2 linked regions of the Homo sapiens genome follow. The protein of the gene in region 2 purifies or fractionates together with the protein of the main gene of each other region. This does not show direct contact. Each region holds a gene or a part of one and is shown on either strand. Other genes may lie near its edges. The genes, in order: MYO1D and BTD.

The links.
Region 1: the proteins of BTD (region 2) and MYO1D purify together in Homo sapiens (affinity purification with mass spectrometry; 2 studies listed by BioGRID and IntAct, with this or other methods). This does not show direct contact.

Annotation. Positions count from the first base shown.
Region 1 is NC_000017.11:32,761,014-32,773,625, forward strand, and holds part of MYO1D (unconventional myosin-Id), read right to left. Parts: intron 11,830-12,612; coding exon 11,776-11,829; intron 10,208-11,775; coding exon 10,112-10,207; intron 6,740-10,111; coding exon 6,623-6,739; intron 4,069-6,622; coding exon 3,865-4,068; intron 1-3,864. UniProt on the Homo sapiens protein: Unconventional myosin that functions as actin-based motor protein with ATPase activity. Plays a role in endosomal protein trafficking, and especially in the transfer of cargo proteins from early to recycling endosomes.
Region 2 is NC_000003.12:15,603,595-15,616,206, forward strand, and holds part of BTD (biotinidase isoform 1 precursor), read left to right. Parts: intron 1-2,846; exon of another isoform or gene 2,847-4,336; intron 4,337-12,612. UniProt on the Homo sapiens protein: Catalytic release of biotin from biocytin, the product of biotin-dependent carboxylases degradation.

The sequences.
Region 1 (12,612 bases), on a different chromosome or scaffold from region 2:
AAAGCTATATGAATTCTAAAAAATATAAATATTGATTTCTAATGCTAAATGAAGATCTGAGCCAAAGATCAAGGGTTGAAATTCCCTGAGAATCGAACACACATCCAATGCACAAGAACACACACACTAAGCCACACATGGACAAAGGTGCCACACGCTAACACACATTCACATCCCGATACACATGTGCTCTGCAACGTCACATCGTTAGAAAACCTTCCTTAACGTCTCCTGCCAGCTACCCACTCTCTTCACCCATATCCATTACCTCCCCTTTACTCTTCAATCCACTCCAGTCTCCACTTACATCCTATTACTCCATTGAAATGGCTCATCAAAGACTCCCAGCACCTCTACATAGATACTTCTCGTACCTCATATGGACATCTTGCTCTGTCGCTCAGCATCACTCAACCTAGGTTTTCACTGCCTTCTTGGAACACTCTTCTCTCTGGATTTCGGATAATAGCCTTTCTGAATTTTACTCTTTGTTCACTGGATGTTCCTTTTTGGTGACCTTTGGTAGAGTCTCCTCTTCTACCTGACTTGTAAAAGTTGGAGTTCTTCCTGGTCCTCTTCTCTTCACTCTCTAGCACCTTCTAAATCATCTCACCCAGGATTAAATAATACAAATATAATATGACTCCCAAAAGTATTATCCAAATCCAGACTCAGAGAACAGTCTCTGAGCTCCTGACTCAAGAGCTTGACTGTCTACCTGACACTGACTCTTCAATGGCTCACAGCCATCTCAAACTCAAAGGACTCTTGATCTTTCCTCTTCCAACAACTGTTCCTATCCTACTTTTAGCCACAAATAAATAGCACCACTTAGAAATTCACTGATTTATTCAACAAATATTTGCTGAATACTTATTATATATAGTTTGTTAGAGATACAGGTCTAGGCAAACACAAACATAGTCTCAATGTCCAAGAAACTTAGGGAATAGAGTGAAGGAAAAAATTATTCTCTCTGTCTCTCTCACTTGCCCCCCACCTCGCAGATAAACATCCACACTAAAGGAGAGGTACATGGGGTCTTAGGGAAATTTAATCTATGCAGTGCTCAGGAAGGTTAGGGAAGGCCTCTCTGGGAAAGTGATACTTGAGACCAGAAGGATGAGTAAGAGGTAGCCAAGCAAGAGAGGAGAGAAGAGCAGTCCAAGCAGAGGGAACAGATGTGCACAGGCCCTGTGACTGGAAGGAGAAAGGGATCAGGATAATCTGTGAGGACTGAGAGAAGACTAATGTGCTGGGCTGAAGAAAGGGGGGCTGGGTATAGTATAAAATGAGGTGGGAGAGGTGGGCTGGAGCCAGACCATGTTAAAGTATTATTCTTGCTTCTCTCATTCTCCACATAATAGGTCCTATGGATTTTATTTTCTCAACACAGTCCATTTCAAATCATCCTCCTCTCCCCATTTGTACTTTCACTTTTCTGATTCAAGCTGCCCTCATCTCTTTCCTGGATTAACAAAATATCCCCTTAATTGACCTCTTTGCTTCCATTCTTACTCTAGCCCCCATAACATTCTCCATACTAAGGCCAGAGTGATCATTTTAAAAATGCAAACTTGCCAGGTGCAGTGGCTCATGCCTGTAATCCCAACACTCTGGGAAGCTGAGGTGGGCAGATCACCTGAGGTCAGGAGTTTGAGACCAGCCTGGCCAACATGATGAGACCCCATCTCTACTAAAAATACAAAAATTAGCCAGGCATGGTGGCGGGTGCCTGTAATCCTAGCTACTCAGGAGGCTGAGGCAGGAGAATTGCTTGAACCCGGGAGGTGGAGGTTGCAGTGAGCTGAGATCATACCATTGCACTCCAGCCTGGGTGACAGAGAGACACCGTCTCAAAAAAAAAAGAAAAAAAAAAAAAGACAAAAAAACGGCCGGGTGCGGTGGCTCACACCTAATCCCAGCACTTTGGGAGGCCGAGGAGGGTGGATCACAAGGTCAGGAGATGGAGACCATCCTGGCTAACATGGTGAAACCCTGTCTCTACTAAAAATATAAAAAATTAGCTGGGCGTGGTGGCGGTCGCCTGTAGTTCCAGCTACTTGGGAGGCTGAGGCAGGAGAATGGCATGAACCCGGAAGGCAGAGCTTGCAGTGAGCTGAGATTGTGCCACTGCACTCCAGCTTGGGCAACAAAGCGAGACTCCATCTCAAAAAAAAAAAAAGGCAAACTTGATGTCATTGCCCCTCCTTAAAGTCCTCCCTATTGCTCTCCATTGCACTTAGGAAAAATTCAAATTCCCCCAAAACTAAAAACCAAGCCTAAGACTTACAAGAGTAAAAAATGAAATAGACAGTAAACTAATCAACCAGCAAAACAACAACAACGAAAGTTAGACGTGAGAAAATACAACGCTTGCCACACAGATAACAAAGGGTTAAAGTTTATGATATGCTAAGAACACTTAGAAATTGACAATAAAAAGATAACAGCTCCAAAGAAAAATGCACAAAAGATATACCCAGGCAATTCTTAGAATATGTTAAAATACTCTACAAAAATATGATAAGATGCTCAAATATACTAGTAATGAAATAAAAGTAACAATAAAATATTACCATGCAGCCATAAAATCAGTAAATTTAAAGTTTAAAATAAATATATGGCAGGTGCGGTGGCTCACGCCTGTAATCCCAGCACTTTGGGAGGCCAAGGCAGGTAGATCGCTTGAGGTCAGGAGTCCGAGACCAGCCTGGTCAACATGGTGAAACCTTGTCTCTACTAAAAATACAAAAATTAGCTGGGCGTGGTGGCACACTCCTGTAATCCCAGCTACTTGGGAGGCTGAGACAGGAGAATCACTTGAACCCGGGAGGTGGAGGTTGCAGTGAGCCAAGATTGTGCCACTGCACTCCAGCCTGGATGGCAGAGCAAGACTCCGTCTCAAAAAATAAAAATAAAATAAGTATACCCTTTGACCTGGCAAGCTCACTCCTGGGAATCCATCCAGCTGAAACAAAAGCACTAGTATATAAGCATAGATGTATAAAGACGTGCAGCATTGTTTGCAGTTGCAAAAAAGGGAAGTAAAGTGGGTGACTTAAGAGTAAGGTGGTTAAATAAATTGTGGTACTATCACTGCAGGCTTAGTACACAGCCCTGGAGGACATTATGCTAAGTGAAATAAGCCAGGCACAAAAAGACAAATATTGTGTGATCTCACCTATATGCAATCTGAAAAAGTCAAACTCATAGAAGCAGAGAATAGAATGGTGATTACCAGAGGCTAGAGGAGCGGGGTGGATGGAGAAAGTGTGAGACGTTAGTCAAAGGGTAAAGTTTCAGTTAGACAGGAAGAATAATTTGTGGTGATCCACTGCAAAGCGTGGTGACTGTTAATAATAATACTAATAATATTGTTTCAAATTGCTAAGAGTGGATTTTAAATGTTCTCACCACAAATAAATGGTAAGTAGGTGAGGTAAGAGGTATGCTAATTAGTCTGATCTGATCATTCCATAATGTGTACATGTCCTGAAATATCCCACTGTACCCATAAACATATACAATTATTGTCAATTAAAAATAAATAAAACTTAAAAAAAATGGATCAGAGCTCAGTCAGTTGACTCTGGCGAAGCATTATTGAGTGAGAGAAGCAGCACGTGAAGCCCTCATGAGCGCCACCCCCAGTCAGCTTCCACTCTTCTCAGAACCTTTTTTGGCAGTGATGCTTACTTACATCTGGGAGTTTTACCGAGGCTTGTATGGCCAGAAAGTATCATTATGGTTTCTAAAAGCCTTAACCCTCTTTCAAGAATGTCTGAATACATGCTCACAGGATTTCACTCAATTTGCAACTGCGATCAACACCAGGTGACATAGGGTCAGTTACACTCTCACCTTGGCAAAGGCGTCTCTGCCGTAGCTGGCCTCTTGTTCTGTGTGCTGCTTGTCAATGATGTCACGGCCTGTGGCCACAGTCCGGTAAAGAAGGGCTTTCTCAACCATATCTGTCTTAGTAGAGAGCAATTCTGCTATGATAGATACTACTTTGCCATTCTCAATAAGAGGCGTGTCACCATCTACTACAAATTTTAAATTTCCCTGTATCAAAAGTGAAAAAAATAACACATTATGAAACATTATGTCAAGGATATATTTGCCAATATAAAATACAATTCAGGTGACCTTGTTTGTACCTATTTTCCTAAATACATTATACATCTCAACATATAAAAACAGTGTTTCATCTACTTTTTCCCTTTCTCCGGACACTCATCTATCTTTTTGCTTTCAGTGTATGTTTTTGATAGATAAAAGTTTTACATTTTTATGTAATCGAATCTATGAATCTTTTGCCTTAGGGTCTCTCTTTCTTTGGTGTCATACTTAGACCATTCCTACTCCAAAGGGTTTATGAGCATTTGATGCTTTCCTCTAATGCTTTTATAGTTTTTGTTTTCCTTAAACTTTTTATTTTATTTATTTATTTATTTTTGAGACAGAGTCTCGCTCTGTCGCCCAGGCTGGAGTGCAAGTGGTGCGATCTTGGCTCACTGCAAGCTCTGCCTCCTGGGTTCACGCCATTCTCCTGCCTCAGCCTCCTGAAGAGCTGGGACTACAGGTGCCTGACACCACGCCCAGCTAATTTTTTGTATTTTTAGTAGAGACAGGGTTTCACCATGTTAGCTAGGATGGTCTCGACCTCCTGACCTCATGATCCACCCACCTCGGCCTCCCAAAGTGCTGGGATTACAGGCGTGAGCCACCGCGCCTGGCCTTTTTCCTTAAACTTTTTAATCCATCCACAATTGATTTTGGTACATGGTATCAAGTAAGAATCTAACTTTATTTTTCACATGATTAGTTGCTCTAACGGGACTTATTGAACAGTCTAGCTTTTTCTGATTTGAAATGTCACCTTTTTTTTGAGACAGGGTCTGTCACCCAGGCTGGAATGCAGTGGTGCACCATGGCTCACTGCAGCCTCAACGTCCCAGGCTTAAGCGATCCTTCCACCCCCAGCCCCTCTAAATAGCTGGGACTACAGATGCGTGCCACCATGCCTGGCTAATTTTTGTATTTTTTGTATAGATGGGGTTTTGCCATGTTGCCCAGGCTGGTCTTGGAACTCCTGGGTTCAAGCAATCTGTCCACCTCAAACTTTCCAAAGTGCTGGGATTACAGGTGTGAGCAACCCCGCCCAGCTGAAATGTCACCTTTTTAATATGTTAAATCTCCTCAAGTGTTTGAGTCTATTTATATTCCACTCATTCAATAAGCAATACATACTTATAACCATCTACCAAATGTCCAGCACATTAACCAATCAGTTGATTAATCTGTTGATCTGGTGCTGAACTTGTGCAAAGTTATAAAGTACTCTAGCTTTTACTATCATTTTAAGTTTGGTAGAACTAGTCATGTTCCCTCTCCTCCCTTACCCTACCCTATACGACACTTCTTTAATATACTTTATTTGATCTTTTTCCAGGTAAATTCTAGAATCAACAGGTCAAGTTAAAAACAAAATAAAGGCCAGGCACAGTGGCTCACGCCTGTAATCCCAGAACTTTGGGAGGCTGAGATGGGCAGATCACGAGGTCAGGAGATCGAGACTGTCCTGGCTATGGTGAAACCCCGTCTCTACTAAAAATAAAAAAAATTAGCCAGGCGTGGTGGCAGGCGCCTGTAGTCCCAGCTACTCAGGAGGCTGAGGCAGGAGAATGGTATGAACTCGGGAGGTGGAGCTTGCAGTGAGCCTAGATTGCACCACTGCACTCCAGCCTGGGTGACAGAGCGAGATTCCATCTCAAAAAGAAAACAAAACAACAAAAAATAAAATTCTTGTTTGGATTCTGAAAAGGACTGCTGCACTGTATTTAAAAACTGATTCAAACAGATGAGACAATTTATAATACTAAAGTCTTCCTAGTCAGGAACATTTATTGTTTATATTGCTATATAATATTTTTCATAAAGATCCTGCACATTTCTGATTCATTTAGAGTTAAATCTTGCTATATTAAGTGAAAAGTAATTTTTATTCCAGATTTGAATCCATGTTGTCATTCTTATTGTAAGATTATATGTTCAGTGTATTTTAAGTATCTCTAATTATATAAATGTTAATGAAAGAAATCTAACACACAGTTCTTCACTTCTAAGTTTGGTGTGGTATAGTGGGAAACAAGTGGCCCAAAAGTGGTCTATGGTGTTGGCTCTGGGATGAGCTGGCTGTGCCTTTGAGGTAGTCATGCCACCCATCAGGGCTATTTCCCAATCTGTAAAATGAGATGATTAAAAATCCAGTTCCGATAACCTATGATTCTATGTTTCAAATGCCACTAGAAATTTATACCACTAGTAGTCACATCACTGCTGAATTCCTTTATCCTTAAAATTAACCAGTTCAAAGTTTGACAATACCAGTAAGACAATCAACTGAAGTAGTAGTCTCCAACCCTATAGTAGCTTGGAAAATCCCTCATAATATTATAAAATGATGGCAAGAACCACAGACATAGTAATTTCTTCAAAATACGTACAAAATTTTCTCTGAATACTTTTTAAATCTACAGGGAAAAAACAAAATCTTCTGAGAAAGCATCCTGTTCTCAGCAGAAGACAATACATTCTGAGAGGTGTCCCTACTCACCAAGTGCAGAATAGCAGCCAAAATCTTATACACTGTTTGGATCTCCTCAGGTTTGAAGCCAATGACTTTCATGGCATCAGCAACAACTCTGAATTCGGCAGCATCATTGATAGAAGACTGGGGATGAAAATGAAAAACTGAAGTTACAGATATTTCCTATGAGCATTAAAATTCAACAATTATAAAACTAAGTTATACCAAGGTTTTGCCTTCATAGTAAATCACTTGAGGGGATGGTGAGTCTCCAGAGAAAATAAAAATGATTTCACGAGTTGCAACATTATTCAGCACGTACAAAGCCCACTTGTGCGTGAAAGCCATCACCTAAAATAAGCACTGTGCCGTTTTCTGGAACCTTCAGTGAGGGAGCAAGTCCTGAGCTGGCTCAGACAAGCTGATCCCCCACTCCATGATCAGTGAAGGCAACAGCATGGATGTGAGATCACAAATGCAAGTGCTGAATGTGGGAGCCTCCAAGATACATGCTTGGCTACTGTTGTTTGTGGCTCTTTGTTCCACAATTGTCTTATTTAGGCTGGCAACAACACTTCACTCTCGTATAATCAGGCGGTTTATTTTCCAGGTGAGGCAAGGCGGGCCCTCAAAAGCAAAACAGCCAGCCTCAGTCATTTAGTAAGCTATTAAATAGTCTGGGACTATAACTTCATTCTTTCACTCACTTGATACGCATTTCACAAGTCAGCTCTACTAACTGGTACAGGCAGCTCAAAGATGAATCGCCTGCCCTTTTAGAGCTGTGGCCATCACATTGGAAATACAAGTGCGTAAACAGAAATTCGCAATAAAGCAATAGTAACTGCTTATATTAGTTTTACCACAGCAGCAGCCGCAGAGGCTTGACCAATTCTTTCCTCAGTAAGTTTCTCCTCTTGTTTGGATACAGAGACCTGGCCTGATGCTCACTTGTTGAGGAAGGGCCCTGGAAGGGGACCTCTCTGCCTGGTGAGTACAAGTTCCTCTAGTGTCCAGGAGACAACCAGGCCAGCCCCTCCTCCTCCTAGGTTTTTGTTTTTACCTTGGACAAGATACTTAACCTCATTGAACCTCAACTTCCTCACAAATAAAATGGGCATAATAACATATATCTTACAGGGTGGTTGTCAGAATTGAATGAAAATTTATATAAAGCACCTCTCTAGCACCAGCATACAAAAAAAAACCACTCAGCAGTATCAGATATTACTATTATTATAAACTGCAACCATGTTGAAGTTGGAAAGTAACTGGATAAAATCTAAATGTCCTACTGTGGGGAACTGTTGGCTGCTTACCTAACAGCCATCCTCTACCCTCATTTCTTTCTTGCCAATCGAACCCTGATTTGTTTACTCCTCTCTAAGTGTGCATGTCCTTTGTGACTGGCATCTACCTAGCCTCAAGAGGTAAATCTTCACTGGTCTAAACTCATCAGAGTGATCTTATTTCCCTTACTAAATGACTGGTTAGCCACAGGCATGGGATGCCATTCTGATCAATACAACATGAGGGAAAGTGTTTATGGGGGATGAGTGGAGGAGGGTTCTTGGGGAGGTTTCCCTAGCTTATAAAGGACATATGCCATGAACATCTCCTTTGCAGGTGACTCCTGGAAATTCTGATGACATTTTGGGACTAAAAGGAAAACCAGCCTAAGAGGACAGAGCTGTCCATGAGTGTGGCAGAGTTGTAAGTTGGGGAAACAACCAAAAAAACACCTGGGTCCCTGACAACATTGTTAAGGCAATGAACTAACTAATTCTGGAATTGTCCTATCTCAGAGTTTCTTGTTATGCTAGATAATTAAGTTTCTTATTGTTTTTGGAGACTTTTAATTGGGTCTTCTCCTACTTGCAACCCAAAATATCTTAACTGTATATGACTCCTGCATTTTAGAACTGGTTAAGATACACACAGTGCAATACTTAATAGTTATAAAAATTATTATATTAATTTATATTTGTTTGCATGGAAAGATTATAATAAAAACAGGTTTATTTAATTAGGATTTATTGTATGATTCCATTTATAAATATAGATGCAAACCATTATCAATAATCATTTCTGTATGGTAAGATTTAGTGTATTTTTGTTTCCTTTTGGTTCATAGTTTAGGTTTTGACTATGATCATTTATTAGTTCTTTGTTTTCTTAGGAAGCAAAAAAAAAAAGGTGGGGAAAGCAGACATGGAAATTTTTGATAAAAAGGGAATCTAAGCTAAATTTAACCTAGAAAAAAGGCTATTAATTTAATACTTGCTTTCTGTGGGGACTCTACACGACTTGGTCAAAAGTAACTTAGTCGATAAGACAATTTGAAAACAAACATTCCCAGTCACTGGCTTTCCAGGTGTTGATTTCACAATTCTTTAAGTGCCTCTGGCTAGTTCTCAGAGAGGTGGAGTGTTGCCCTCTACTGTTTTTTGTTTTTAATTCATTTTCAGCCAAACATCCTGCTCGCTCTCAGATGACCATAAAAGTAAAGTTGTTGTAACCTAAATGTCAAATAATGGAAAATTAATTGCAAAAACCAAAATATCATTAATTTCTATGCACAGCAATAAAAATACAGCTAAACCAATAATGCAGGTATAATTAGCTTATTTTGATTAATAGAATTTTTTAAAGAAATAGCTCCCATATCTTAGATCTTTTTCCTTTACAGTTTCTTTTATTTCTCCCCCAAATATGAAAGCAGTAAGTTTTTGATGTAGAATTTTTTTAAATAAGGAAAAACAGAACACAAATATCCATAATCTCACCCATCTAGAATAAATAATTAATACTGTGATCTATATCCTACCATATCTTATTATATGCATTTATATACCTTCCCTCCTACGAAATAGGATAATAGTGTAACTATTATCAACAAACTATTATTATAATTAGTTGTAAAATTACTAGATGAACTAGAAATAAAATGAACTAGAAATAAAAGAGCAAAAATACGCCTGCATGTAAGTGTATGCAAGTGCTTGCATGCAAGAAAAGAGAAAAAATGGAAAAACTTGAAAGCTGAATAGGAATGCCTCAAAGGTCACAAAATTATTTCTAGGGTACATCAAAATCAACATTTGAACAAACAGTGAGTGGAGAATCAAAGTGCATTTTAATTTTGTCTTACTAACTTGCCTTTGGCCAAATCATATGGAATCTTCTTAGGAGGTAGGCTTCCTAGTCCTATCAATATTTTTATAGTGTGAAAATAAACGGAATAGGGATAGGATTAAAAATTAAAATAAAACATTGAATGTAGGAAAAAACTTCTTTCCTGTCAGATGGTGATAAAATATCATAATTGATTTTAAGCAAAGTTGTTGATTCAAAAATGTGCTGAATCTCTGTCCTTGAGAATTTAAAAAATAGAACAGGATAAAAGAGATGTTTATTTGCCTAAAGATAGCAGGCTTGACCAGATAATTATTGAATGTCTCTTCTAATCCTTTGACTGATTTTCTATTGGAGCAATCTCAAAGAGGAAATTCTCACCTTTAATTGAGCTCCCACATGAATATAGTTGTAGGATGAAAGGGATTTCTGGAGATGTAGAGAGCGTAGCATTTGTTCTGAACCTCCTTGGAGTAGCTGAAAAATATTTAATTAGAAATAAATTGGCCAGACATACATTGAACCAAACATGAACTTAGTGGTAATCTAGCTTTTATTCATTTTCTGGGCTTAATTCACTTATGTCTTCCTGTTTCTAGCTTTGAAGTTTTGCTTGTTTGTTTTTTTAAACATTCAAGGTAAATGGCTTCAATGTCATCAGTTACAGAGAATGTTATGCAGTCATAAAGAAAATTACTCTGAAAATGTCTCATCTCATTTACAATATAACTGGCATAAAAGTTTCTTGCTTTGAATGCCGTCATTTGTAAAACAGGATCCTATGCTCTGTGGTGGTTGCTTGCTTAGCAGCCTCACTATAGACAGGATATAGTTCTGTCTCAGAATTTAGAAAAAGTCAATATTGCTACGGAAGTAAGAAACATCAGCAGACAGTCATATGCTGAATCACACTGGAAACAAACAGCTTTTCCTCATCAATCTGTACCTCTCAGGAAAAGAGGACAGCTGGGGAACCATGATTGTAGTATTGGATAAAGATAAATTTTAATACTTTCACCCAAGTGGGAAGAACACTGGGAAAAAGTTACAGGTTATTGAAATAAACAGAACTCTTTTATATTTGGTAGAAAAATAGCTTATTTAAAACATGGCAAATTGCCAACAGAACCATAAACACAATATTGACAGTGCTTTTATATAGAGCATGTTTTTGGAAGGTATTAGGTTTAAATTCTCTAAATTAAACTGTATGCTTTTGTTTACTTAAAAAGTCTAATTATCAGATTTTAAAAATTGATTTTTAAACTTAATATACCAGAACTTATATATACAAATGAGTAGTGTCTATTAAAGCAGTTACCTAGAAGAAACTGAATTCGACTGAATTGCATCCAATTGTATTGTCACCGTTCAGTTACTTTCTGTTAACCTTGATTTACATTAATTTGGGCTTTAAAAACTTACAATAATATATCATACTTGTTTTCTAAGTGTAAAGACTTGCCAACAGGAAGGCTATTTAAAAGATTTTGCTTTAAAATCTAAAAGCACTCTTGAAAATAAATACTCAAATTTTTTTCTAAACTTGATGGATTAAAAAGGCAATCCTCCCTAGAAGTTATAAATCCAGATTGTTTTTTTAAAAGTAATCATATTGCTTTTAGTGTGTATGAGTGAAACAAACTGAATTTGTATTCTGATCTCTAGAACTCCCAAATATGGAAACAACAGCTTCAATTCAAAATAAAACAAAAATTAATTTAACATTTAGAATGTACCATTTCAAAAGCTTTCACAGTCATTAAAGTGTTATCTGTACTGCAAGAAAATATGGGGGATGCTCACCCAAGGCAGTCATCTGGTTGGCTAAGCTCCTGCCAGCTGGGTGGAACAGTCATGTTCATCCAATCTCTTAAGCAGGTAGGGCAGGGCATGTGGTGCGTGCGTGCGTGCGTGCATGCGTGACATGTTACGGGGCCAATGGAGATGAGTGATGCATAGGACAGGGGAAAGCCCAAGACACAAATACTCATTTCCTGCACAACTGGGCAAATGATCAATTATCTGTATAATGGATTACTAACCTGATAGAAAGAATGAAAGCTTCTTTCTCCTGGCTGTTGCACAATCACTCGAGACTAAGAAAAAACACATTAAAATGGTTAACCCGAAAATGTGCCCCTAAAATAAAACAGGAGCCACTTTCTTAGGGAACTGTCAGGCCTCTGAGCCCAAGCCTGCACGTATACATCCAGATGGCCTGAAGCAACTGAAGAATCACATAAGAAGTGAAAATGGCAGATTCTTGCCTTAACTAATGACATTTGGTGCCGTGACTTGGATCGGGGGAGCTCCCTTGGGAGATCAATCCCCTGTCCTCCTGCTCTTTGCTCTGTGAGAAAGACTGACTTACGACCTCAAGTCCTCAGACCAACCAGCCCAAGGAACATCTCACCAATTTTAAATCAGGTAAGCGGCCTCTTTTTACTCTCTTCTCCAACCTCTCTTACTATCCCTCAACCTCTTTCTCCTTTCAATTTCGGCGCCACCCTTCAATCTCCCCCTTCCCTTAATTTCAGTTCCTTTCCTTTTCTGGTAGAGACAGAGGAGACGTGTTTTATCTGTGAACACAAAACTTCAGCACCGGTCACGGATTCGGGAAGACAGTCTTCCCTTGGTGTTTAATCACTGCAGGGACGCCTGCCTGATTATTCACCCACACTCCATTGGTGTCTGATCACTGTGGGGACACTTGCCTTGATCCTTCACCTTGGTGGCAAGCACCACTTTCCTGGGTGGCAAGTACCAACCCCACCCCACTCCCTACCCCCACCCCCCGACCCCGGCCCATGTCTCTACCCTCTCTTTTCTCTGGGCTTGCCTCCTCCACTATGGTCAACCTTCCACCCTCCATTCCTCCT
Region 2 (12,612 bases):
TGCAGTGAGCTGAGATTGGGCCACTGCACTCCAGCCTGGGGGACAGATCGAGACTCCGTCTCAAAAAAAATAATAAAATTAAATTTAAAAATAAATAAATAAAAGCAAGATAGTTACTTCCTAGATACAATGGGTGCACGGGAGTGAGGTAAATATACCCGTTCCAAATGGGAGAAATTGGTCAAGACAAAGGGGCTAAAGCCCCCATGCAAGTTCAAAATCTGGCAGGGCAGTCAAATATTAAAGCTCCAAAATGATCTTTGGATCATTTTGACTTCGTATCTCACAGCCAGATCATGCTGATGCAAGAGGTGGGCTCCCACAGCCTTGGGCAGCTCTGCCCTTGTGGTTTTACAGGCTACAACCCCCTCTCCCAGCTGCTTTCACAGGCTAATATTGAGTGTGTGCAGCTTTTCTAGGCACATGGTGCAAGTGGTCAGTAGATCTACCATTCTGGGGTCTGGAGGACGGTGGCCCTCTTCTCACAGTTCCACCAGCAGTGCCCCAGGAGGGACTCTGTATGGGGGCTCCCACCCCACATTTCCCTTCCACACTGCCCTAGCAGAGGTTCTCTATGAGGGCTCTACCCCTGCAACAAGCTTCTGCCTGGACATCCAGGCATTTCCATACATCCTCTGAAATCTAGGCAGAGGTTCCCAAACCTCAATTTTTGACTTCTGTGCACCTGCAGGCTCAACACCATGTGGAAGCTGCCAAGGCTTCAGGCTTGCACTGTCTGAAGCCAGGCCTGAGCTGTACATTGGCCCTTTTTAGCCATGGCTGGCATGGCTGGGATGCAGGACACCAAGTCCCTAGGCTGCAAACAGCAGGGGGACCCTGGACCTGACCCATGAAACCATTTTTCCTCCTAGGTTTCTGGGCCTGTGATGGGAGGGCCTGTTGTGAAGGTCTCTGACATGCCCTGGAGACATTTTCCCCATTGTCTTGGTGATTAATAGTTAGCTTCTTATTACCTATGCAAATTTCTGCTGCCAGCTTGAATTTCTCCCTAGAAAATGGGTTTTTATTTTCTACTGCATCGTCAGTCTGCAGATTTTTCAAATTTGTATGCTCTGCTTCCTCTGGAACACTTTGCCATTTAGAAATTTCTTCTGCCAGATACCCTAAATCATCTCTCTCAAGTTCAAAGTTCCACAGATCTCTAGGACAGGGGCAAAATGCCACTAGTCTCTTTGCATAGCAAGAGTGACCTTTACTCCAACTCTGAATAAGTTCCTCATCTCCATCAGAAACCACTTCAGCCTGAATTTTATTGTCCATATCACTATCAGCATTTTGGTCAAAGCCATTCAATAAGTCTCTAGGAGGTTCCAAACTTTCCCACATTTTCCTGTCTTCTGAGCCCTCCAAGTCTCTAGGAAGTTCCAGACTTTCCCACATTTTCCTATCTTCTTCTGAGCCCTCCAAACTGTTCCAACTTCTGCCAGTTACCCAGTTCCAAAGTTATTTCCACAGTTTCGGCTGTCTTTACAGTAGTGCCCCACTCTCTGCATTACCAATTTTCTGTGTTAGTCCCTTTTCATACTGCTATGAAGAAATACTCAAAACTGGGTAATTTATAAAGAAAAAGAGGTTTAATAGATTCACAGTTCCACATGGCTGGAGAGACGTCACAATCATGGTGGAAGATGAAGGAGGAGCAAAGGCACGTCTTACATGGCGACAGGCAAGAGAGTGTGTGCAGGGAAACTCCCATTTATAAAACCATCACAGCTTGAGACTTATTTGCTATCACAAGAACAGCATGGGAAAAACCCTCCCCAATGATTCAGTTACCTCCCACCAGGTACCGCTCATGATATGTAGGGATTATGGGAGCTATAATTCAAGATGAGATTTGAGTGGGGACATAACCAAACCATATCAGGGACCCATCTCAGAGGGTGACTTCTTTCAAGTCTCAGAGTGTATCTAAAAAGAAAATGCAGATTTTGTATTATACTCTAGAATGTATCCATATTTTAATTTTAAAATGACATTTATTGAGATATAATAAAGATACAATTCAATGTCCAGATTTTAAATGTTAGATGAGTTTTGACAGTTATATATATATATATCTATGAAATCACCACCCAAAATAAAAATGACATTTTAAACTGCTTACCTGTCAAGTAAAATTGACATTCCAGAAAGATGTGAAACGGGCTGGGCACAATGGCTCATGCCTGTAATCCCAGCACTTTGGGAGGCCGAGGTGGGCAGATCATCTGAGGTCAGGAGTTCGAGGCCAGCCTGGCCAATGTGGTGAAACCCCATCTCTGCTAAAATACAAAAATTATCCAGGTGTGGTGGCACATGCCTGTAATCCCAGCTATTCGGGAGACTGAGGTGGGAGAATCGTGTGAGCCAGGGAGGTAGATGTTGCAGTAAACCAAGATTGCACCACTGTACTCTAGCCTGGGTGACAGAGCGAGACCCTGTCTCAAAAAAAAAAAAAAAAAAAAAAAAGATGTGAAATCATCTTTGCACTTTGAGTAGTCCTTGACACAATGCCTCCTGTCCTTGTTGAAGAAGTACAGACTTCCCCTTCCATCATGTATTATTTATATCAGTACCTTTTGTGACAGTCTCTGCCCCTGTTGCATTAGAGTCACTTGGAAAGCTTTTTCCAAATAGTTACTTGGGCCCTACCCCAGATCTCCTGAATCAGCATCTTAGGACAAGTCAGGCACCTGTATTTTTTAAAAGCTGCTACCTGATTTTGCTTTGCAGCCCAGAGTTGAGAACCCTAGCTCTGTTTTCATGCCAGAAGCATGAGTTACTAATTAAACATATGATTGCCTGTCACCAAAGTAATACTGTTGATTAATTTGGATTGACAGGTTCAAGACTGATTTGACATTGACAGAACAAGCTGTATCGATGGTAGTCAGTTCACTGGGCCTACTTCTGTGTCAAAAGAAACAGTGACAGAACCACTCAGTATGAAGTGCAATGAAAACTGAACTCTGAATTGGAACAAATAACTGGAATTCAGTTAACTGGTTTTGCAAAAGGATAAATACTCAACTGGTTGTTTTCTGCCATTTAACAAAGAGAAAAATCATTGGGATTGTTTAAACTTGCTTTCACCTTTGCACCTTTCAGTTCAGGATGCAGTGTTCAATTGTTAACTTGGGCTTGATGATTCAGCAGAAAGAAATGATTTGAGTTCTGGCTCACTGGATTAACAGGGCCAAGGAGCAAGTCCTTTGCAATCCAATTGTAATTACAGCCAGCTTGTCCAACCCTTGGCCCAGGATGGCTTTGAATGCGGCCCAACACAAATTCATAAACTTTCTTAAAACATTATGAGATTTATGCACCGACCCTTTTTTTTGTTGTTGTTTTTGGTTTTTTTTTTTTTTTTTAGCTCATCAGCTATCATTTGTGTTAGTGTATTTTATGTATGGCCCAAGACAATTCTTCTTTTTCCAGTGTGGCCCAGGGAAGCCAAAAGATTGGATACCCCTGACAGGATTCCAGGATTCTTTTGTAATTTCTCAGAGGCCCTCTGTGCATACTCCGTAAGGACTATCCACATTCTTTATTACTTTCATTGGCAATAGGTATAAAATTTTATTTGTTGGATATTTTACTGAAATGTTACTTGTTTTTGCTTATTTACTGATTGGTGGGAGGAAGTCAAAGGATGAATAAATCTAACCTTTTTAAAAGAAAAGGCTAAAATACTCATAACATGCTCTCCAAAGAGCAGAGCTAGTCATCAAAGAATCTGCATACCAATTACTCTATTTGTAGGTTCTGGATTTGAGATTATGAAAAAGAGCAAATTGGTGGTTTTCTTCTCTCTGGGCCAGGGAGATATCCAGGCAACCAGGTAATTTAGTAAGAATTGCAAATATAGTGCCTGGAGACAATTTATTCTCTAAAGACTGCAGCTTCTACAGGCAGTAACTCTTAAAGCCCCCAAATTGGGATAGTGCATTTTAATTTCCGTATACTAACAAGGACACTAAAAATCCTTGTGATTATTTTAAAGCATAACACTAGCTGAACTTGTGATTAAGTATTCTCACAAATGTATTATCAAAATGTGAAATGTTTACTTATCAAATGAGGAAATGAATCAAGGTCATTTGTGATACATTATAGAAGCTAAAAATGAAATTGCCTGACATAAGATAAAACTGATACTGAATATCTTAAAAATAAAAAGGCGGAAACAACAAAAAAAGGAGTCTATGTAGAACACTATTTTTTATAGCAATGCAAAAACTGTACAGCCGGAAATGTGTTGTAGGAAATATGTCAACATAGGAAGTAAAATAATGTAATGAAAAGGTTCTTTGAATAAAGTGGGTTAAATTGATTTTCTTTGCTTCTCATTAAATCTGTGGACTTCAGAGTACCAAAGCTCAGCAACAGGCTTGAAACAAACCCAGTGAAAAGCAACTTTATTATTGAGCTGAGGATTGATATCAGTAATAACTCATTAATAAAAAAGCTTGATAATAAAAACTCCCAGTGCCTGATGCCAGCTGACAGACACTGGGAGTTTTCCCAGGTACCCTGTGACCTAGAGAAAGCTTGGATTCCTGCCTTTGGCTTGGGCTGGCAAGCCCTGTGCCTTTACTCTACATTTTAATGCCAGGGAGACCTGGAACTGGAGAAGGGAGTGCTGTGGGAAGAAAACAGAAGGAATGTTGTTCCCTTGTTTTAGCTTTGTGTTCATCCATTATGGGTTTTGGGTTTTTTTGTTTTTTGTGTTTTTTTAAGAACATTTGAGATAGTTTGACAGCAGCAGTCATTACATCACTGACGAGGACGTTTACTTGTGTAAAATGCACCAGGAAATAGTGACAACTGTATGTTGTGCTATGAGGATGTAAGAGATTTATCTCAAATGGCTTAGAAATCAAAATATAGGTCAGTGCGGTGGCTCACACCTGTAATCCCAACACTTTGGGAGGCCAAGGCAGGCGGATCACGAGGTCAGTAGATTGACACCATCCTGGCCAACATGGTGAAACCCCGTCTCTACTAAAAATACAAAAATTAGCTGGGCATGGTGATGTGCGCCTGTAATCCCAGCTACCGGGGAGGCTGAGGCAGGAGAACCACTTGAACCCAGGAGTTGGAGGTTGCAGTGAGCCGAGATTGCGCCCCTGCACTCCAGCCTGGCGACAGAGCGAGACTCCGTCTCAAAAAAAAAAAAAAAAAGAAATCATAGTATTTCTCCGTATGATGGAATTCCATACTCGGGGGAGTGTCCCACAGGGTAGGCAAGCAGCTATCACCCATGTAATATGGTACTAGTGTTGAAATATTTTCTGTTTTCACTTGCTTCTTCTGCCATTAGCATTCATTACAGCCCTTTCCTTTAACTTTTTAATTTGTACTTTATTGCTTTGTTTTGATAATAATCTATTCTCCATGTCAGCAAAACAAAGATTTATCTCTAGGGAAGAATCTCTGAGTGATTCCCAGGGTTTGGGGGTTGAACTGGGGACATCTTCATGATGAACTTAAGCCCTTAAACTTCTTTTTACATCATAACGTTTGAGTTCTTCTTTGGAGCTTAGCTGTGATTTATTCTTTTCACTTCAAAAAAAATACATTTAACATTTATGACATCTTTCAGACACATGAATAGGATCAGAGATTAATATACACCCATGTACCCAGCCCCTGGCTTAAGAAATACATCACAAATATAATGAAACCCCCGTGTGTCCTTTCCCCATTACACCTCCTTTCCTGTCCTACAGAGGTAACCACTATCTTGAATTTGGTGTTTGTAGTTCCCACATTATCCATTCTTTAGATGATCGATATTTGGTCATTTTTAGTTTTTTTGGAAACAGTGTGCTCTGAAATTCTTGCATGTTTCCTTCTTGTGCACATGTGTGAGAGTTTCTACATATATATCAAGGTGGAGGTCATCATCATTTGATCTCCAAAGTATTGTACCAATTTATACTCCCAACATTTGTGTATGAGAGCTACCCTTTCTCCATAGTCTCAACTGTGGAGCTTTAAAAATTTTTAAATGTGAAATGGCTTCTCAGTTCCATTTCTCTGACTACAAATGAGGTTAAGTTATATTTGTATATATATATTGGCCATGCGTGTTTCTTTTTCTGTGAATTACGTGTTTACATCTGTTGCACATTTCCTTATTGGATTATCTTTTGCTTTTTGATTTGTAGATGTCCTTTATGTATTCTGAATGCTAATTATTTGTCTTTTAACTTTGTTAATAGTGATTTTAGAGGTATAAAGGGTTTTTTTATAGTCACATTTGACAACTGGTCTTCCTTATTTTTTTTTTAATTTTTTTATTTTTTTGGTAACTTGCTAAAGAAAACTTTTTGTAACCTGAGGTTATGAAGATTTTTTTCTATATCAAAAAGTGTAAAGTTTTATTTTTCATATTTAAGTCACTACCTGGAATTGATTTTTGTTTGTTGAGAAGTAAGAATCCATATAATATGTCAATTAGATTTGCTGTGTAATTAACCACCCCAAAACTTAGTGGCTTAAAAGAACCACCATTTATTTAACATATATTCCTATGAGGCTGGTCTCAACTGGGCTCACCCATGTATCTGTTAGTCAGTTGCCAGTGAACTGAGTCACTCAGCCCCTGGAGGTTAGCTGGTTGTCCACTGGGATAGCGGGCATATTGCCAGTGAGCCACATAGCTCTACCACTCAGCAGGCTAGCTGGACTTCTTCATTGGATGGCAGCAGGTTGCAAAAGGGAATGAGCCTCATTGTGCAAGCCTCTATGTGCGGTGTTTGCTAACATCTCATTAGCCAAAGCAAGTTATGTGGCTGGGCTCAGACTCTAAGTTAAAGGCATTCGAGTTACATGATAATGGAACATGGATACAGAGAGGGGAGAAATTGCTGGCCTTTTTTATAGTCAATTTACCATAACATCCAGTTGTCCAAGCACCATTCATAATATAGTTCATTCTCATCCCAGTGATACATAATTTCCCCTCTGTGGAATGTCAAGCTCGCATATTTATGGGAGTATTTCTGTACTCTCTGTTCTTTTCCTATCCTAACACCAATCCCACACTATCTTAATTTCTGTGTTTTTAAAATAAGTCTTGATGTTGGTAGGACAAGTAGTCCCTGGACTTCATTCTTTTGAAGCCATCTTGTTTATTATATTAATTTTAAGCAACTAGAGGGGATGGAAGAGGAACCTTTAGATTAAAAGAGATTTAAAAGATAGGGTATTTTTTAATGGACAAGACTAAACTACAGTGTCTAGGGATGCACATTGGGTGATAAAGCTATTTTAAAAAACAAAGAAGTGATGAGTATAAAAGTCAGGGTCATGGTTACTTGATCCCTCATGGGTAATGTTGTCAGATTTAGAAAAAAAAAAAAAAACAGGACTCCAAAACTCCCAGTTGAATTTGAACTTTAGATGAACAATGCATAATTTTTTTTAGCGTAAGTATGTTCCAACATATTTATCTGAAAGTTAAATTTAACTGGGCCACCTGTATTTTACCTGGAAAAATCCTGATTTTATTCAAGGTGATAATGCAGTTTACATTGCCCAGCCTTCCTTGTAGCTAGGAGTGGTCACGCGTCCACACATGGGCCAAAGCAATTTAAATAGGAGTCACTGGGCAGGGCTTTTAGGAAAGCTGATGAAACTGGCAAGTACCCTCTGTACTCTTCCTCTGTACAACATGATAATTGGAGTTGTAGAAGTCATTTTGGAACCACAAGATGACTCTGAAAATGGAAGCTACATGCCAAGAAGTTAGGCCCAGAAAGAGAGGGATCCTGGGTCCTACATGACTCTTGCCTTTGTCAGGTTTTATTATCAGATTTTTATCACTTCATAAGAAAAAAATGCCTTCTTTTACTATATTCTCACACACATTGAGTAGCATTAGGATTATTTTTTCCTTTATAGTTAGAAAGAATTCTTCTAGAAACTATTTGGGCCTGTTTTGAGGGTGGAGAATGGGAGGGAATGATTGTTTGATAACTATTTCTTCTATGATTGTTGGCATGGTTTAGTTTTTTCTTTTATCCGAAGTTTTGGTAAAAATATATTTTTCAGTCCCAGCTACTCTGGAGGCTGAGGCACAAGGATTGCTTGAATCCAGGAGGCAGAGGTTGCAATGAGCTGAGATTGCACCACTGCACTCCAACCTGGGTGATGGCGTGAGACAGTCTCAAAAAAAAAAAAGAAAAAACAAATAATGTATTTTTTTTCTAGGAAACTACTCGTCTAAATTTTCTAGCTTATCAATATAGGATTGAATGAGGTGATTATTCTTTTTTAAAAAAAATTCTTCTGCATTTATAGATTTCTCTTTGTTTTGTATATTTGTTTCTCTTTTTTTTCTTAATTAGGCTAGCCGATCATTTGTCTTTACCTTTTTTTTTCTCTAAACAACAACTCCTTGGACATACTTATTCATTCTGTCATTTTTCTGTTTTCTAATTTAATTTCCACTCTTATTTTTATTTCCTTCCTTTTGCTTTCTTGAGCATGCCATTACTCTTTTCCTCACTGTTACCACCTTTTGTTAGTTTTACAATTTCTACATTGCCAGAGTTAATAACATTTGCACTGTGTTCTATAAATATAATCCTCATGTTTATTTTACATTCAAGGCTCTTGCCAGTTTTTCCATTCACCTCTTAATTGGCCGAAGATTACCCTCTATGCATTTTTTCAAAGAAGGCTGATGAGACTGATGAGAATAATAGTCCCTGAGTTCTTATATTTTCATACCTATTATCTGGTTTTTTTCTTTACTTCAACCATAGGTTGGCATAATATATAATTTCTGGCTTATATTTTATTTTCTGGAAGGATTCTATAGGCTTTTACTGGCATTGATGTTATTGTAGTAAAGTCTGAGGACAGCCTGATTATTTTGCCCCTAATAAATACCCTTGATCTTTTTATTTAGCTTCCCAAATGATTCTTACTTTATCTTTGAAGATCAAGAATTTTGCTAGGCTATCTGCCGATGTTGATGTTCTGTTCCTTTCTTTCTTGAGTTTTGCTATCTCTTTTCAAGCTATAAATTGAAATATGCTTTTATTTCTGGTGAGTTTTCTTCAATTACATCTTTAATTTTTTTTTTTTTTGCTTCATTATATGTTGTCTATTGTTGTATAAAAATTTACCCTACGACCTATTCAGCAGCTTAAAACAAGACCCATTTATTATCTCAAAGTCTCTATGTGTCAGGAGTCTGAGCATAGTTTTACTGGATCCTCTGGTCAGCATCTCACAAGGCTACAGTGAAGTTGTCAGCTGACCTCATGGTCTCATCTGAGGCTGAGTTTTCTTCCAAATTCAACTGATCGTTGAAAGAATGAATTTCCTTGCAGTTGTAGTATTCATGGTGGCTTGCTTCTTCAAGGTCAGCCGGGGAGAGAGTGTGTCTGAAATCTTGGAGCACCCCAGTTCTTTTTTTAAAGACCTGATTAATTCAGACCCACCAGGGTAATCTCTTTTGATTAACTAGATTAACTGGCTTGGGATTTTAACTACATATGTGAAAGCCCTTCACCTTTGTCATATTCTATTGGCTAGTAACAGAGTACAATTTCCACCTGCACTCAAGAAAAGAGGATTATACAAGGAGTCACCTTAGGGTGTGTCCACCACACATTATTTTTTTCTTTTATGCATTTTCCAATTATGCATATGATGGATCTCGTTCACTGTTCTCCCTGTCTATCATTTTCTGTGGACTCCTTTTCAATTCTGTATTTCCATTCATGTTGCTTATTTATTTACAGCATCATCTGATTTCTTTTGCTGCTTCTATCTTTGCCATAATTTCTTGATGTTTTAATTTTTTCTTCTGCTTCTTTCCTGAGCCCTGCCAGATAATATTTCATCTGTCTCCCAGCTTTCTATTCCCCACTCCCTTCTCCCTTCTCTCTTCTTCCCTCTTCCCCCTCCTTACCTTCTCCTCTTCTCCTCCTTTCCTCCCCTTCTCCCCTTTTTCCCTTTCATCTTTTAATTCTCTTGGTCTATTTTGTGCTTTTATTTAATATAAGCAGTTTTTTTTCACTCGTGGCAGAATGTTTTGTCACAGTTTTTATTTGTGTTGTGGCAATTTTCTGGGGTATAACCTTTGTTTTCGTATAGTATCTTTCAAAAGATCTTGAGCTTTTTATTTACTCATTTTTGAGTGAGTTTTTCCTCTACTGTAGGAGGTTTATGTGTGAACAAGGCCATTCTGGTTCACAGTTATTTTTTCTTAGCACATTTAAGATTTTGTTTTCTTACTTCTATTGTTACTCTTGAAAAGTCTGCTGTTTTCAAATCACCATATCTTTGAAGGCAATCTCTCTTCCCTCTGGTTGCGTCTAAGATTTTTTTCTTCTTCAAATATTTCGTGTTCTGGTTTCTTTATGTTGTGTATAGATTTCTTTTTGGTTGTCTTGAATCTATGGATTTCTGTATTTTATTATTAAAATTCTCACCTATTATACCTTCAAACATGTGTAATGTGTCATGTGTCATTTTATGTATTTTCTCCCTCTTTCTTTCTTTCTTTTTTTTTTTTTTTTAAGTCAAGGTCTTGCTCTGTCGCCCAAGCTGGAGTACAGTGGCACAGCCGTAGCCCACTGCAGCCTTAAACTCCTGGGCTCAAGCAATCCTACCACCTCAGCCTCTTGAGATGCTGGGACCGCAGGTGTACACCACCATGCCCAGCTAATACTTTTTTACTTTTTGTAGAGATTATATTGCCCAGGCTGGTCTTGAATTCCTGGCCTCAAGTGATCCTCTCATCTTGACCTCCAAAGTGTTGGGATTACAGGCATGAGCCATTGCACCCAGCCTCTATTTTCTCCTTCTGAAATTCCAATTAGAAATATCATGGAACATCATATATGTCTTCCATGTCTCATCTTCTTTTTTTCCCTTTTGTCATCTCTGTGGTACATTCTAAACAAATTTTTTAATGATTCTAACGGCCATGCCACAAAATGTCTCCATTTGGTTTTATTTGACAATATCTTTTTCTTTTTTTTTTTTTTTTTGACACAGAGTCTCTCTCTATTACCCAGGCTAGAGTGTAGTGGTGTGATCTTAGCTCACTGCCACCTCCGCCTCTGAGCTCAAGCAATCGCCCTACCTTAGCCACCCAAGTAGCTGGGACTACAGGCATGCACCACCACACACAGCTAATTTTTGTATTTTTTGTAGAGATGGGGTTTTGCCATGTTGCCCATGCTGGCCTCCAACTCCTGGGCTCAAGTTATCTTCCTGCCTTGGCCTTCCAAAGTGCTGGGATTACAGGCATGAGCCACCACTCCCAGCCAACAATATCTTATTCTTTTACCTGTTTTAGAGTCCTCTGAGTACTTCTTTAATCAACTTCAGTGTACTTATTTGAAAATTTTCACTAGTAATCCTTCCATCTGAAGTTGTTGGGGGCCTGATTTTGCTGTATTCTTTAACTTTCTTGCATAATATTTGCTTCCTTGTGTGTTTTGTAATTTTGAATTTTGAGCTCTTGTTTACCTTGTTCTTCAACCCAGGACACTCAGTCTTCAAGAAGAGAGTATGTGGATAGGCTTTTCCAGGCATCTTAGGACTGATAACATCTCAAAATCACTTTGTGCTCATTTCTTGGCATAGAGTTACCTGGGTCATGTATGTTGTGAGTTTTTGAATCATGAACCCACATAAGGAAAACCTTTGATTATGTTGGTTATGACTTTCAAGGAGTACTATTTTCCCCTGCTCAGAGCCCAAGATGAGATGTACAAGTTTCTACGTCAGATAGTTACTTTGGCAGGCAGGCAGATATTTGTTTTTGTCCATCCTTTCAATAAAGGAATCATTCCTTAAGGTTCCTAGCTATATGCACAGATCTCACTCCAACCTCCACATCTTGTCTTTCTGTCCTTCATGGTCTTTAAAATCTAAACCCCTTGGATATCAAGATTGGGACATGTTCCAGTATCACCTCACCACTCCAGTTTTCAGTTACTTGATTTTAGTTTTTATTTTTTAAATGCTTTTTTTAAAAGAGAAGTTTTATGCTCACAATAAAATTGAGCAGAAAGTACAGAAAGTTTACATATACTCCCTGTCCTGATACATGCATAGCCTTCCCTGTTATCAATATCCCAGACTAGAATGGTATGTTTGTTATAATCAGTGAACCTGCATTGACACATTATTATAACATGAAGTCCATAGTTTACATTAGGATTCACTTCTTTCTCCCTTAACACTTGGCAACCACTGATCATTTTACCATCTCTGCAATTTTGCTTTTTCCACCACTGGAAATGTTACATATTGGAATCATACAGTATGTAGCCTTTACAGATTGGTTTCTTTCCTTTAGTAATATACATCTAAGGTTCCTCCATATCTTTTCATGGCTTGATAGCTCATTTCTTTTTAGCACTGAATAATATTCCATTGTCTGAATGTATCACACTTTATTAATCCATTCACCTACTGAAGAATATCTTGATTGCTTCCAAGTTTTGGTAACTATGAAAAAAACTGCTATAAACACTCCTGTGCAGTTTTTTTGGAGACATAAGTTTTCTACTCCTTTGGGTAAATACAAAGAATACGATTGCTGAATCATATGATAAGAGTATGCTTCAT